Linked DNA regions of Homo sapiens. The protein of the gene in region 1 purifies or fractionates together with the protein of each later gene. This does not show direct contact. Each region holds a gene or a part of one and is shown on either strand. Other genes may lie near its edges.

Region 1 (7,090 bases):
AAAAATACAAAAAATTAGCCGGGCGTGGTGGTACATGCCTGTCACCCCAGCTACTTGGGAAGCTGAGGCATGAGCATCACTTGAACCCAGGAGGCGCAGAGGTTGCAGTGAGCCAAGATTGTGCCAAGATTGTGCCACTGCCTGGGTGACAGAGCAAGACTCTGTCTCAAAAAAAAAGAAAAAAAAAGTGACCTCTGGCGTGGATTTCTCCAAGGGCTTGTGTGCACATTCCAGCCTGTCCCCATCCTGGCCAGCAGGGTGACCCTGGGCAGGACACTGAGGCCCAGTCCCTCATCTGCCTGCAGAGAGGGCTGTGGGCACCAGTAGGGTGGTGTCTAAGAGCCTGGGGGGCAGCAGGGTCACGTATGAGGGTCTGGGGACAGTGGGGGCAGAGGCTATGGTTCCTGACGCTGTGGTTGGCACAGTGGGCTGGCCCTGGACATGGGACTCCATCCCTTCCTAAGGGGTCCTGGGGGTCCAGGACTGCTCCCAGCCTGGTCCAGAGAGAGAGAGAGAGGAGAATTCAGTCTCCCTGTGGACTCCCAGAGTTAGGGACAGGACCCCTGAGCAGCTGTCCTCCCCGACCCCAGCCTGTCCCGACCCTCGTCCCGGCCTCACCTGTGAAGAAGATGTAGTCGAACCTGTGCTCTAGCAGCTGCCCCGTCTCCTGGGGCCCGCCCAGCACCACAGCAAAGCAGCTCTGCAAGGCGGGATGGGTGAGGCTCCTTCTGGGACCCCAGCTCCGAGAACACAAGGGAGCAGCCCGCCCTGCCTGGACCCTGCCCTGCCTCCACCCCGCCTGGCCTGACCCAGCCAGGGCTCTAGGAGGGTTGGGTGGAGGCAAAGTGGGGAGAAGGGAGCTCCCCAAGGTTGGCTGGCATTGGCAGGCCCAGCTTGGAGTCCAGCTGGCGCTGGAGGGGCTGATGCCAGGGCCAGGTGGAGGCAGACACGGAACCCCTGGGCAACAGGCTGCCCTCGCTGCTCCTCAGAGGGAAACTGAGGCTGACAGGGGCGGTGACTTGGTCAAGTTTACACAACTCAGAAGAGGCAGGATTGAGGTGGGGACTCGGGTCTGACTGACAGGCCCTTCCATGCCAGGGGCTGCCCAGCCCTTGAGCCTTGCCTGTTCCCGCTCTACCTGCCCGGCAGCCCTGCTCACCTGGTCCACGTATTGGGGCAGCACCTCGGCCAGGATCTTCTCGACGTTCTTGCTAATCTCCGATGGCTTCAGCACCACACAGTTCCCTGCAGGGCAGTGCAGGGAGAGAGCTGGAGGAGGCGTAGCCAGCTCCTGGTCTCCACACACCTGCAGGGCAGGCATCAGCCTCACCCACTTTCAGATGCAGAACCTGGTTCAGAGAGGTAACATGACGGGCCCAGGGCCACACAGCCCGGGGACGGTGGACCAGACAGTCCTCTTTGCCACCTGGGCCAGTTCTCCCATGTCCTCCTGGGATCCATGGGTGGCCCTGAGGCCTCGAGCGGAGAAGGGTGACCGGAAGGGGCAGGCCCAGCTCTCACCTGCAGCGAGGGCTCCCACGAGGGGCACCAGCGTCAGGTTCAGCGGATAGTTCCAGGGCGCAATGATGAGGACCAGGCCAAAGGGCTCCTTCCGGATGAAGGCGGAGTCCAGCTGCGTGGCCTGGGCCGGGAGCCGGGGATGAAATTAAGTGCTCAGCACCCCGGCCCCTCAGCAGCCAGCTCCCACCCAGAGGGGCCACCCTGTGGGAGCAAATATCCCCTGAGCCCCCTGCCCGCCTCAGCCCGGCCGGCTCACCAGGTTCTTGGGCACACGCTCGTCCTTCATCCAGGCCCGGAGGTTCCTGAGGGCCAGGGTGACCTCGCCCTGGCTGATGGCAACCTCAGACACCTCCGACTCGAAGGCTGACTGCAGGAAGTGGGTGGGGTCAGGGTGGGCCAGGATTCCCAGAGTTGGCAGGAGGGCACAGCCTCCTCCAGGCAGGGCCTGCTTCCACAACTCATTCATTCATTTTCATTCATTCGTTCACTCACTCACTCCATGTTCAGTGCGTGCTTCCTGTGTGAGGTGCTGTCTCTGTGCCAAACAGAGGGACCGGCCCTGAGGCCGACCTTGCAGGGGGCAGTCGTTCCATGTGAAAGTGAGAACGCTGACGGCTCCATTAGGACGTGGCTGTGCTAGGGAAATCATGGAGCAGGGTGGGGGTGGAGACTGCTGGAGCGTGTGGCTGTGGGCGTGCACAGGTGTGCACATGTATACATCCACATGAGCATGTGTGTGTGTGCTGTTTTTACAAAGCGGTCAGTGCAGGTCTCCAGGCGGCGGTCACATTGGAGCAGTGACCTGAAGTCAAGGAACAAGCAAGTCGTGGGTACTGGGAGGCGGCATACTTTGGGCAGAGGCCCTGGCGGCTGCAAAGGCCCCGAGGTGGCTGTGCGCTTGCTCTGCTCCTGTTTAGCAAGAAGCAGAGTGGGCAAGGTGAGGGGGCCAGGCAGCCAGGCAAGGACTCCTGAGAAGAGCAGGGATGGGATCTGACTTAGGGTTTTGTTTTTTTTTAATTTCAAAAAAAGTTTGTTTTGATTTTTTGCAGAGTGCCTTGCTGTGTTGCCTAGGTAGGTCTTGAACTCCTGGCCTCAAACAATCCTCCCACCTCAGTCTCCCAAAGAGCAGGGTGGAGATTGGTCCACAGGAGACACAGGCACAGCCACCCCTAGGTAAATGCTGTCAGTTCCCACAGCCCAGGGGCCAGGGCCACTGTCAGGCTTCTAAGCAGGAGTGAGGAGACCCGAATCAATAGGGACATTGTCCTGCTCTCGGCTAGCCAGTGCTCCCTGCCCTCTGCGCCCCAAGGGAGGAGAGACCAGCCAGGCAGCAGGCTGCAGGCCGCTGGAGAACAGGTCAGGGACACTGGGGCCAGGCTGGCTCCCTGGCTGAGGCAGCGCCTGAGGTTATGGGGTGCAGGCTCTCCCGGGTCAGGGCAGAGGGGGACGGGCCAGTGGGGTGCTGGATGGGCCAGAGGACCAGCGAAGCCCAGAGAAGGAGATGCCCTGCCTGAGGTCACTCAGCGAACCAGGGGCAAGGCCAGGGCTACAGCTGAGCCCCAAGAGGGAGGAAGACGCCACGCCCACTGGCACCTCCTAGCCACTGAGGCTGGGGGAAGGTGCCTTCCACACGGACTTTCCCACAGCCTGTGCTCTGGCCCCATGAGCCTGGTGGCCTGCCCGCCACACCTCCTAGGTCACCTGGGACCTGACTTTGGGAGACTGGGCTATTTTGAGCCAGGTTCAAACTCTGGCTCTGCTCTTCCTGGCTGCATGCCCTTGGGCAAGAACACACTCTCTCTGAGCCTCTTCTGGGGGCCACTGGGTGTGGTTGCCCAACCAGATTCACCAAAGGGTTAACTGAGAGGGTGCACGTGACGCTGGGCAGATGCTGCCTGCTGAGGGTGGGGACAGGGGGGTGACCAGGTCCAGAGGGAGGGACCAGGTTGAATGTTCTGGGCTACTGCTGCCTTTGTAGGGCCCCGCTCCTGCAGCTGGGATGGGAAGGCAGGAGGTGGAATCAGAGCCGAAGGGAGAAAAGGGACCAGACAGACGTCAGGTCAAGTCTCATGAAGGCCGGCAGGCGGCCGGTGGCAGAAGCTCAGTGGTGGCGGGGGAGTCAGTCCCCAGGGAGCCCAATGGGCTGGGGGAAGGTCTGAACACTACAGCCTTCAAGGCAAAGGGAGGAGATATTTTGTCCAGAGAATAGGAGCCGGGGGCAGCCCCTGGGGCAGATGTGCTGAGGCAGGGGCAGGTGGTGTCCTGAGGCAGGGGCAGGTGTCCTGAGGCAGGGGCAGGCAGGTGCATGGGCCCTGATGGGTGAGGGGTTGGGGGAAGTGTGTTTCTTGGGGTTCTGCCTTGGCTGCCACTGGGATTGGGAGGGGCTGAGGCCCCAAGCCTTCAGGGTCTAGACAGAGGCCATGATGCCTGCTGTACCCAGAGAGAAGGCCAAGGCCTCACGGCCTCCGAGGCCCTACATAGTGTGGCCCATACCCCAGACCTCATCTTTGCTGTTTCTTCCTCTCCCACCCCCGACAGCTATGCTGGCCTCCTTGCTGCTCCTCAAGCAGAAACACCCAGCACCTCCTGCCTCAGGGCCTTTGCACGTGCTGTGCCCGCTGCCATCTCCCCAGCATCCATGGGGAGCCTCCCCTCCATCTTCACGTCTCTGCTCTAAAGCCCCCTTCTCAGAGAAACCTTCCCTGACCCCCACATATACAACAGCACCCTGATCCTGGCCCCCTCTCTCCCCTTCACCCTGGGTGTGTCTCCAGGGCACATATTTCAACCCAATATGCTGTGTAATTATTATCTTTATTATTATTTTTGAGATGGAGTCTCACTGTGTTGCCCAAGCTGGAGTGCAGTGGTGTGACCTTGGCTCACTGCAACCTCCACCTCCCAGGTTCAAGCGATTCTCATGCCTCAGCCTCCTGAGTAGCTGGGATTACAGGTGCCCACCACCACATCCAGCTAATTTTTGTATTGTTAGTAGAGACGGGGTTTCGCCATGTTGGCCAGGATGGTCTTGAACTCCTGGCCTCAAGCGATCCGCCCACCTCGGCCTCCCAAAGTGCTGGGACTACAGGTGTGAGCCACCATGCCCGGCCTTGCTGTGCAATTATTTATTTGCTGTTTTATTGTCTCCGATAGAAGGTCATCTTCGTAGGCATGGGAACTGTGTTTTATTCTCTGCTATATCCCCAGAGCCTAGAACAGTACCTGGCACATAGTAGGTGCTCAGCAAATAGTTGCTGCATGAATACAGAAATAAGTGACTGGATGAATGTGCAAGGGTGGCTCTGGCCTAGGGGAGGAGCTGCTTTTAGCCCCGCTTCATGGAGGGCGCAGGTGTCTTCATCCCCTGCTGTCCCAGCTGCCCTCCATGCCCCCCTGCCCCAGTGCACCCTCTCATACCCCCAACCCCAGCCCACCTTGTGCAGGTCCTGGGCCAGTGCGTCGTGCAGAAGCTGCTTGTTTTCTTGCAGGAAGCGGCCCAGGCCTTGGAGCTGCGCAGCCCGGAACTCAGCTGGCCGCGTGCGCCCCGCGTGGAAGGCCTCCCGCAGTCGCCGCAGCGTGTCCCCAAGGGGGTCCATCCTGCCAGATGGGGTGGCATGAACTGGGTGGCCAGGGCTGCCCCTCCTTCATGGGCACCACCCAGCCGCCCCAGGGTCTGGGCACCCCTGACCTGCCTGCACCCACAGGGGCTTGCAGACACCTCTACCTTATACACACACAGGGACCCACTCAGATGACCCCACAGGGACTGAGGCTGCCTGCAACCCCTTTCACCCAACAGTGAGCACTCCCAGACACACATGAAGACCCTCGCACCACTCCCCTCTGCCATGGACCTGGAGGCGGCTGCAGGACTGGGTGTGGGCTTGGGGACAGCTGCTCCACCACAGCCCCCGAGGGTGAGCAGGCAGGCAGAGCGCCATGCTTCTTCCTGCCGCACAGAAATTAACCCCAAGCCATGGCCTCTGCCCTGCCCTGATGCCCCTCCTGGAGGCGGGGCAGCCTCACCCCTGCCAGTCTGAATGGTGTAAGCAGGAGCTTGATGAGTAGAGGGGGTGACTCACTGCCACCATGGCCACCACCTTGGAGCACTCCAGACACAGAATTCTCCGTCTTCCTCTGTCCCCAGCCTGGGGGCACTGCCCAGGGAGGCCAGGCCAGTGGGCAATAGCCTCTTCTCCCTGTGCCTCAGCTTCCTCAGGAAGAGGGGGAGAACACCTCGGGCCTCCTGGAGGCCCTGCTGCCCACCCTGCCGGGGCTGTGGTGCTGGGAGGCAGAAACAGCTGTGGGGGAGAGGATCAGGGCGGGGGAGAGGGCGTTCCTGCCTCCGTGCTGGTGCCAGCCAGAGCTGGCAGGCAGGGTAGGGGCCTAGACATTCCCCCGAGCCCTGCCTGTTTACTTGAAGTTCATCGGAGGAGCACTCTGACGCACTCGTTCCTCGGCCTGGTGCCAAGGACCCGTGGTGACCCTTTCCTCCTTCCCTCTCCGAGTCCCTTTCCTCCAGATCTCAGCTTGGCTGATGCTTCCTCCAGGCAGCCCACCCAGATTATGCCCTCATCCACTGTCACAGTGGCCCCTTGACTCTGCTCCCCAGCGTTCTGAGTTGTGCCATGTGATAAATGTCTGGTTACACTCTACCCACCTCCCAACCCTGTCCACATCTCCCTTATTTCCCCCTCATTAGACTGGGAGGCAGGCCCCTCTGTGCCTACTTATTTGAGACCTAGTGCTTGAAGCCTCTCATGTTACCGGTGTAATGATGGCACCTGCCAGCTAATGATGAGACCACACAGTCGGTTCTGAGCCCAGGGCCCAGCATCGGTGAGCGCAAGGCTGTGGGTGATTGTTAAGTGGCCACCTTGAGGGCGGGACCTGCTCCGGTCTGCAGGATGGCCCTGCTGGACCAGTGTGCTACTGAGAGCCTGGTCAGGAGCCCCAGGCCAGCCCTCAGCTGGAGTGATTGTGGGGCCAGGCTGAACCCACCATCTTCCTGCTCTGATTGGGAGAAGCTGGGCAGTGGCCCGCACACAGGACAGGCACCATGGTCCCCATAGGGGATGGCTCGTCACGGGAGCAGGACTGAGACCCAGGAGCCAAGAACGAGCCTCTCGAGCCACCATCAGGCCTGTCTCCGGGCTCTGCCTCTTACTGGTTGTGGGACCTTGGGCAAATCACTCACCTTCTCTGCCTCGGTTTCCTCATCTGTGAAATGGGGATGCTAATGGCACCTGGTGTCATTGTGAGGATTAAATGACATCACGCTGCATAAAACATTTGCTGTTGTGCCCACAGAAAGTACTCGACAAAGGTCAGCTCTGGGTGTTTTGCTAAGTAGCCTGCAAATATTTATCTCCCTCAACTCCGCACTCTCCTGGGTCCTTCTCCATTCTACTCTCACCTTCAGACTTCTGCCAGTGGTCAAAGGCAAACCACGCCTGTGCCTCTCTCACCCTTTGTAAGAATCTCTGCAGAAACCACAAAAATGCAAGGCACGTAACGTGAATGGTGGACTGTGGGCCGGGAGCTCTGTGGGGGATGGAGTTCTGCAGGG
Region 2 (7,494 bases), on another chromosome or scaffold:
ACTTGTCTCTAGAGTACCCTACAGTGTGTGAAAAGACTTTGCAGGGGTGGGATGGTCTATTCCCAGTGAGGGCTCGGTGGTGATGACCCCCACTGAGGTCAGCCCTGTGCAGGGTTGACCAGGACACCAGGAAGCAAGAATGCTAGTCTTCATTCCAGCATCTGCCAAAAATAGACTTTGGGTCTATCTCATCTTCAATCCCGGCCCCATCTGATAATGACTGTGTGGTCTGTGGGGTCTCTTCCAGTCTCTCAATCTATGATGGTGTGGTTTGTATGAGCCAACATTTTATGCCAAGATCTTGATGGAGCAGTGAGTTTGGACTGGAGCGTGCCTGTGGCTGGTGTCTAGAACCTGGGACTTCCCTTTGCCCCAGCAGGGTCTGTCTGTACCCCCTCCAATGCCCACATGGACAGGGATGGGACGAGGAAGAGGAGGGGTGCAAAGTGTCTATAGGAGAGTTTTGGGAAGAGACCGCTCAGGCAGGCCTCAACTAGAACCCGAGAGCATGGAGGGCTGACCTTGGGCATACACGTGGCCCCGGAGTGGTCACTGTCTCTAACCAGAGGTCACCCAGGAGTGCAGCTTGCTAGTGGGGCTGGGGTGTAGCCTGCAATGATACAGGAGAATTGGTGAACTCCCCAAAGGAAAAGAAAGGAAGGAGGGGATGAAACCAGATAACTCATCCCCCAGGCCATGTAGGAAGGAGCCAGGAAGCTCTTTTTCTATCATGTCATGCTGTCGCATATCAAATATTGTTATGAATTTCTGTACTATGGAGAAAATAAAGTGCAGTGGTTAACAGCAGGGACTCTGGCATGTCAGTGTCTGGGTTGAAATCCCAACTTTGCAACTTACTCGCTGTGCGACTCAGCTTCCTCCTGTGTGAAACGGGGAGACCATTGGACCTTCCACAATGTGTGTCACAGGACCCCAGTGTGGGCTAAAGTTAATATATGTAAAACACTCGGAGGAACACTGCAAGGAAGAAGTTCTGTTCTAGGTGCTTCACATATATTAACCCTTAGTCCACACAAAGTCCTACTATTATTACTATACTGCAGAAAGCCCAGAAGTAGCCTGGACTAAAGCTTTTTGAGAAATCTTCCACCTCTCATCTTCCCCATGTTTGCTGTTTCTGTGCCCCCGGCTGTTCCATCCTATGAGGCTGAGAGGGAAATGTACCTCCAATGCTACAGCCCAGCGTGAGAGGCACAGTCGCAGGACAAGTTCTGAGAGGCCAGCATTCCCAGGCCACTGATGCCCAGGGAATGGGGTGGGACAAGACGGGGACCAGGAGTTCAAGTTGCTGAAGGTCCCCCAGGTCTCTTTTCCATTTGACACAACAAGGAGCTCCCTCCTGCCTCTCTCAAGCTCCACATCTGATCAGTTCAACAGACCAGAAGCAAGTGTGTTGTCCTCGCAGAGCTAAGGGGCTGGGGATGCTGAACCAGATGAGACTTAGGTTCCTTACCTGCAGCAACTTGGAGTCTGAGACTGGTGCAGAGAGACACCTAAGCCAATAATGAGAGGCAGTACTGTACTGTAAAACACACAGGTGCTGCAAGAGCACAGAGTGCAGAGGAGGGAGCCAGCAACCCCAGGAAAGGAAAGCCCTGAAAGAGGCTGATGCGCAAGCTGGCCCCACAGATGTGCAGGAGCTCAGCTAATGGATAAGGAGGCAAGAGCCTTCCTGGGAGGGCTGGTAGCAGATGGGGACATTTGCAGGGGTCTGAGCTTTGGAAGAGAGTCCCCACTGAAATCTGGAGCTCTTGGGGAGGTCTGGCAGGGAAGGTGTTTTGGGACATTAAGCAGAGCCCAGGGAAGGGGCTGAGGCAGCCAAGAAAGAGGCTACTTACCCCATGGGATCATCAGCAGGACCATGAAACCTGGAGCAACACAAGAGAGAAGGCCAGGGTTATGCTGCCATTCTCACCTTCCCAGGCCCCACAGCTTACGGAAGCACAGGAGGTGGTCAGGGAGGGCTGATTTCATACAAATCAAGCTTTCTCCTTTCAGAAGGGACCCAGGAGGGCACTGTGCCCATCCCTTCATGCAGACCAGACCACGGGGGTCTCTTCCTGGCCTGGGTTGGTCCTAGAAGCTGATGGAAAGTTCCATGGGCTGAGGCTGCCCCCTCTCTATACCTCAGTAAAGGGCAGTGTGGATTCAGGAAGATTGTGGAAAAACTGCTGACTTGTGAGTTATTTAGAGAGATAGTTTCTCTTTCGGAACAAGAAACAAGCCTGTTTTGGGGCTAGAAAGAATCAATCTGGAAGGGCTGCATGGAGAGAGTTCATCTCCTGGGGAGGGCCTGTGCCTCTGCTCCCATCGTTTATGGCTTCCTGTTGCCTTTCCGCTACCTGGCTGTGGTAGGCAACCACAGCCTTGGAGACCTAGGGTCTGACAGGACTCCTTCGAAGAGATCTCTTTCACCTGGTGACCTTGGACTTCTCTGTCAACCTAATAGAACCTCCATGAAAATTTGCAAGGATGCCCAGGATCTTGGCCCCAGGCTGCCCTCTTGCAGGACAGACAATATGAGGTTGGAGAAGAGGTTCTTGGCAGTGGGCGCTTCTTGGATAAGGCCAACAGGAGGGACCTAAGAACATGGGAAAGACACAAAGACCCAGTGCAGGGGCCTCATTGACTCTGGGCTTTCAGGACAGAGAGAGGAAAGTCAAGTCATCTTCAGCCTGTTGAGAAAAGCCTTCCCTTGCAACATGAAGTCTCTTGGGCTGAAAGAGCCTAAGGGGGAGCCCACAGGAAAGGTAATCAAGGGACTGCAAGCCAGGAGGCATGGAGAGGGATAAAATGACCCTCTGAAGTTCTCCTGAGTCCTCCTGCTTCCTTGCAAATGGTAGCAAGTGGTCCCTGAACATCCACATCCCCACCTCCCCACAGCTCCCGAGACCCAGCCCACTATCCGACGGCTCACCTGCCCAGGCCACAGACCGCACCATGATGCAGCTCAGCGGCAGGCTGCAGCCCATACAAACCAGCTTTCCAGGTCCTGCTCTGCTTTTATCTGGCCACCCTGTCCCACCCCAGCCAGGAGTGTTGCAATCAGGGGCACTGGGTGGGGGGGATGGGAGCAGGGTGGGGAGGGGTAAGATGTCAAGCAGCATGAATTGGGCAAACTTGACACAATGGCCTTTAGCAATTCTTGCTTTTCTGGAACAATCAGAGGGTGACTCTTAGTGTTGCCAAACAGAGGAAAGCGGGAAGTGGCCCTGAACCTCCTGATGGATGAGCATGACCCTGACTTTCTTTGTGTAGTTGGTGAGGACCATAAGCAGCCCCAGACTTAATAGGGCTTTGGAGGAAGAGAAATGACTCACGAGTCAGGCAGCTGGGTTCCAGACCAGCTCTCTTGCTTCTCCACTGCCCTCTCTCAAACTGTTTCTCCATCTAGAAGATAATGGGGTTGCAAATATAATTTACTTTTCATGATAGTAATAGTTGCATATCCATTGATGGAGAAAAATAGATAATGATAAATAGTGACTATAAGTTTGGTAATGGCTTGAAATGCCTATGTTTCTTATGAAGAATAATAATGGTGGACATTTGGGCCAGGCATGGTGGCTTACACATGTAATTCCAGCACTTTGAGAGGCCGAGGCAGGTAGATCACCTGAGATCAGGAGTTCGAGACCAGCCTAACCAACATGGAGAAACCCCATCTTTACTAAAAATACAAAATTAGCCTGGCATGGTGGCACATGCCTGTAATCCCAGTTACTCGGGAGGCTGAGGCAGGAGAATTGCTTGAACCCAGGAGGCGGAGGTTGTGGTGAGCCGAGATCGCGCCACTGCACTCCAGCCTGGGCAACAAGAGTGAAACTCCATCAAAAAAAAAAAAACAAAAAAAAAAAAACAGAAGAATGGTGGACATTTGTGTCGGTTTCCCAGAGCTTCTGTAACAAATGGCCACCAAACAGGTGATTTGAAACAACAGAAGTTTATTCTTTCACAGTTCTGGAGGTCAGAAGCCTGGAAACAAGGAGTTGGCAGGGCCATGCTTCCTCCGAAGGCTCCAGGGGCGAATACTTCCCAGCAGCTTCCAGCTTCGGATGGCCTGTGGCATTCCTGGGCATGCAACGGCATCGTTCCAGCCTCTGCCTGCCTCCATTTTTACACGCCCTTCCTCGCTGTGTCTCTGTATGTCCCCTCCTTTCTGTCTCTGAGAAGGACATTCTAATCCAAGATGATCTCATCTTGAGATCTTTACCTTCATTACATTTGCAAAGACCCCTATTACAAATACAGTCACCTTCTGAGATTCCAGGTGAAGTTATCCTTTGCGGGGGGTGGGAGGGGGTCACCATTCAATTCACCACAGGACCCAAGTGGGCACATATTACTGTAATGTCTGCAGACAATGTCTGGTGTATGCATGAACTCCAGGGTCCCTGAGAAAGCTCTGCAGTTTCTAGGGGATCCAGTCTTTGGCCGGTGGGCTTAACATGAATGGCCTAGATGGCCACGTGGGAATATTGGGTGCGGCAGGCTGTGGAGTTAGGTTCCTGAGTTTGAATTCCTCCTCTGCCATTTACTATCTGTGTAAACTGAAGTGAGTTCCTTAATTTCCCTGAACTCCAGTTTCTTCATCTGTAAAGGGGAATCCTCAGAGGACTGTTGGGAACGCACTCCATGGTGGCTGCTATTATTCCTGGTTCTGCCAAGTGCTGCCACTTCTGCTGGTCTAGGGGTGTCAGAGGGCTCTAGTAACCTCTTCGAGGCCCCTGAGAGTGTTGGACCTCAGCACTCAGATGGACCAGCCCTAAGTCCTCCCTTTCCCTGCTGCAGTCATGGCTTCTGTTTCTGCTGTGGTCAGCCCTTTCTCTTGGGGATCCTGCAAAAGAGCCTGTTCAGGGTCACCTGAGATGTGCAGAGGTGCCTCAGCTCCTTGGTGGTGGGGGAGTGAGAGTGGGATGCAGGAGTGAGGACTGGGAGGTCCTGAGCCTCGGGGAGGAGAGGCTTCTCTGGAGAGTTAGGGGCCACCTTATCTCGCCCCCGCCTCCATATACACAACTGACCTGTCAGTTTCATGAATTTCTCGCTATGCCTCATGTCCCCAGGAGGACATGCACTGCAGTGCCCAGAATCTGAGTTTCTCCAAACACTGCCCCATCCCCTATTGTCTTTAGGTTTTCTAGAAAAACAGATCAAAAATAATAACAGAGTTTGGTAATATGGCTGGATTTAAGGTGAATGTACAAAAATGAATAGCTTTTCTCTACATTAGCAATAACCAATTAGAAATAGAAGTGAAGGAAATGTCTGATTCACAGAAGTGTCAAAATCTATAAAATATTTATAAATAAATTTAATAACAATAATAAGTTTAATAGTAGAATCTATAAAACTTACCCACAGGATATAAATTTGCAATAGGATCTGAACATGTTCTTGCACGGGAAAACAATATCATAACAAATGTCAATTTTTGTCAACTAAAATACAAAACCAGTAATGATGGTGACACACTATACAAAACTTATTATAATTCCATTGGGATTAAAATAGCATGGAATTGCCACCAGGACAGACAAACAGAGGTAGGTCTGAGCATATATGGAGAGGGTGTGTGCAATGAAGGTAGCAGTTCAAATGAATAAGAAAAAGATGTTTTATAAATGCCAATGACTTAATTGTCTACCAATCTGGAAAGAATCAAAGTTAGGCCCCTCACACCATATACAGCAGAAATGACACGTGGTAAATGAAGGTGGGCACAGGGAGCAAAGGAGCTCAAGGAGAAACACCAGCCAGGGTGGGGTGGGAAAGCCAGTGGAGTGATGCTTGAACAGAGCTTTGAGAATAAGTAGGTTGCTGGACAAAGAGAGAAAGGGAAGGAAGTTATAACAAACACACCAGATGTTCACTGATGGAGCCTCTCAGTGAGGAAACTGCCCACGATACATGCAGGGACAGTGGGACATCATTAAAAACTCTGTGTCCTGTCGGTTGAGAACCACTGGTTGAGGTAGGCAGGTGGGGGTGATCTCTGCTGAGGGGCTCTGTGTAAAAGGGCACTGGACATGGCTGGAGGGAGAGGAGAGAGATACAATGCCTTGCCAGCCTGGATTTATTTTACAGTATGCCTCAGTCTAGTAGGGCACATCCTGGGCTCACCTGATGGCCAGACCTGAATTGCAAGATTTCAAGGAATAAGTCCCTGCCTGGAGGCTGAGACCTGGGAGCAGAAGGCAGGCCCATGTCCACCAAAGCTGGGGAGGAGCCTTCCCCAGGGACTGACCCAGAGTTCCCACCTAAGTAGGCAGGTCCCAGCCACCAGTACAGATTGCCCATGTGTAGAACTGAGAGGTCTCTGATGCCTTCAGCAAACTTCAATTAACAGCCCACCACACCTTTGCTCCTAAATTGTGTCCCTCCTGGGGCTGCCCTCCCTGGCCCTCAAGTCCTACAGAGATCACTCTGAGTTAAGCCTTGCCTCTTCCACAGTCAATGTACTCCATACTACCTTCTGCTATCTTGGAACAACTCCTTCCATCCAGAATAGGAAAGAACCCTGGCTTGGAGACAGACAGAACTGGGTGTATCTCAATGGATATCACCAATAAATTACTTTCATAGATTTTATACTCTCCTTTCCAGCCCCATTGGCTTCTCCCACCCCTTTCTCAGCCACTGCCAAAGCCCAAACCAAGTAAAACCAGTGTGCTTGATATAAAATGAGGCTTCAAAGCAAGTCCCCGTCCCACCCTACTGCAGAGCAGATGCCTGTATAGAAATTCTAAAGCTTCTGCTGATTTGCATCCAACCTGGCTGGCTGAGCTGGGGCTAGTCACAGCCTCTCCAAGCCTTGGTTTTCTCATCTGTAAAATGGGGATAATACTACCTATCTTATTTGGTAATGATGTGGATCGAATAGATAATGTGTGAGAGGGCTTTGTAGGTGGGAGGACGCCAGCCAGATCTCATGGGACTGCATCTTGATGGTTGGTATCACACCTTTTTCTCTTGCTTCATGTGAGCATCTCATCTCTGTAGCTGGACTGTCCATAGCCAGGCAGAGTGGGGCCTCTCTCCACACCTCTCTATGTGTCCCTCAGCACCAAGCATACAGGGGGTCTTCAATTAATGTTTGTTAACTGTTCCTTCCCACGTCCCACCGTGTTCTTCCCCTTAGCAGTAAAAGACATCACCACCTATCCGGGTCTCCAAGTCACCCAGGAAGTGTCCTTGATCCTTCCCTTTCCTCACCCTCAATGATCAGGACCTATTAGACATCCTGCCTCCTGCTCCATCTCCTCCACCTCCTAACCACCGTCAACTCCCACCCTGTCCCCAGAAGAGCCTCCTACCTGCCTTCCTTCCTAATTCTCTTGCCTCTGCAATCCATTCTCCACACAGCAGCCAGAGTACACTTTGAGAAACTTAAATCAGATCCTGTTGCTTTCCTGCTAAGACCTTGCAATGGTTCCCACTTAAAATAAAATATCAACTCCTTAACTCTACCTCTAG

The links. Proteins that work in one complex are often made in the same cells at the same time.
Region 2: the proteins of ALDH3B1 (region 1) and CHIT1 purify together in Homo sapiens (affinity purification with mass spectrometry; 2 studies listed by BioGRID and IntAct, with this or other methods). This does not show direct contact.

The regions. Positions count from the first base shown.
Region 1 is NC_000011.10:68,013,325-68,020,414, reverse strand, and holds part of ALDH3B1 (aldehyde dehydrogenase family 3 member B1), read right to left. Parts: intron 5,119-7,090; 5' UTR 5,118-5,118; coding exon 4,956-5,117; intron 1,889-4,955; coding exon 1,778-1,888; intron 1,643-1,777; coding exon 1,522-1,642; intron 1,246-1,521; coding exon 1,160-1,245; intron 701-1,159; coding exon 619-700; intron 1-618. UniProt on the Homo sapiens protein: Oxidizes medium and long chain saturated and unsaturated fatty aldehydes generated in the plasma membrane into non-toxic fatty acids. May have a protective role against the cytotoxicity induced by lipid peroxidation.
Region 2 is NC_000001.11:203,226,674-203,234,167, forward strand, and holds the start of CHIT1 (chitotriosidase-1 isoform 1 precursor), read right to left. Parts: upstream 3,001-7,494; 5' UTR 2,964-3,000; coding exon 2,939-2,963; intron 1,890-2,938; coding exon 1,860-1,889; intron 1-1,859.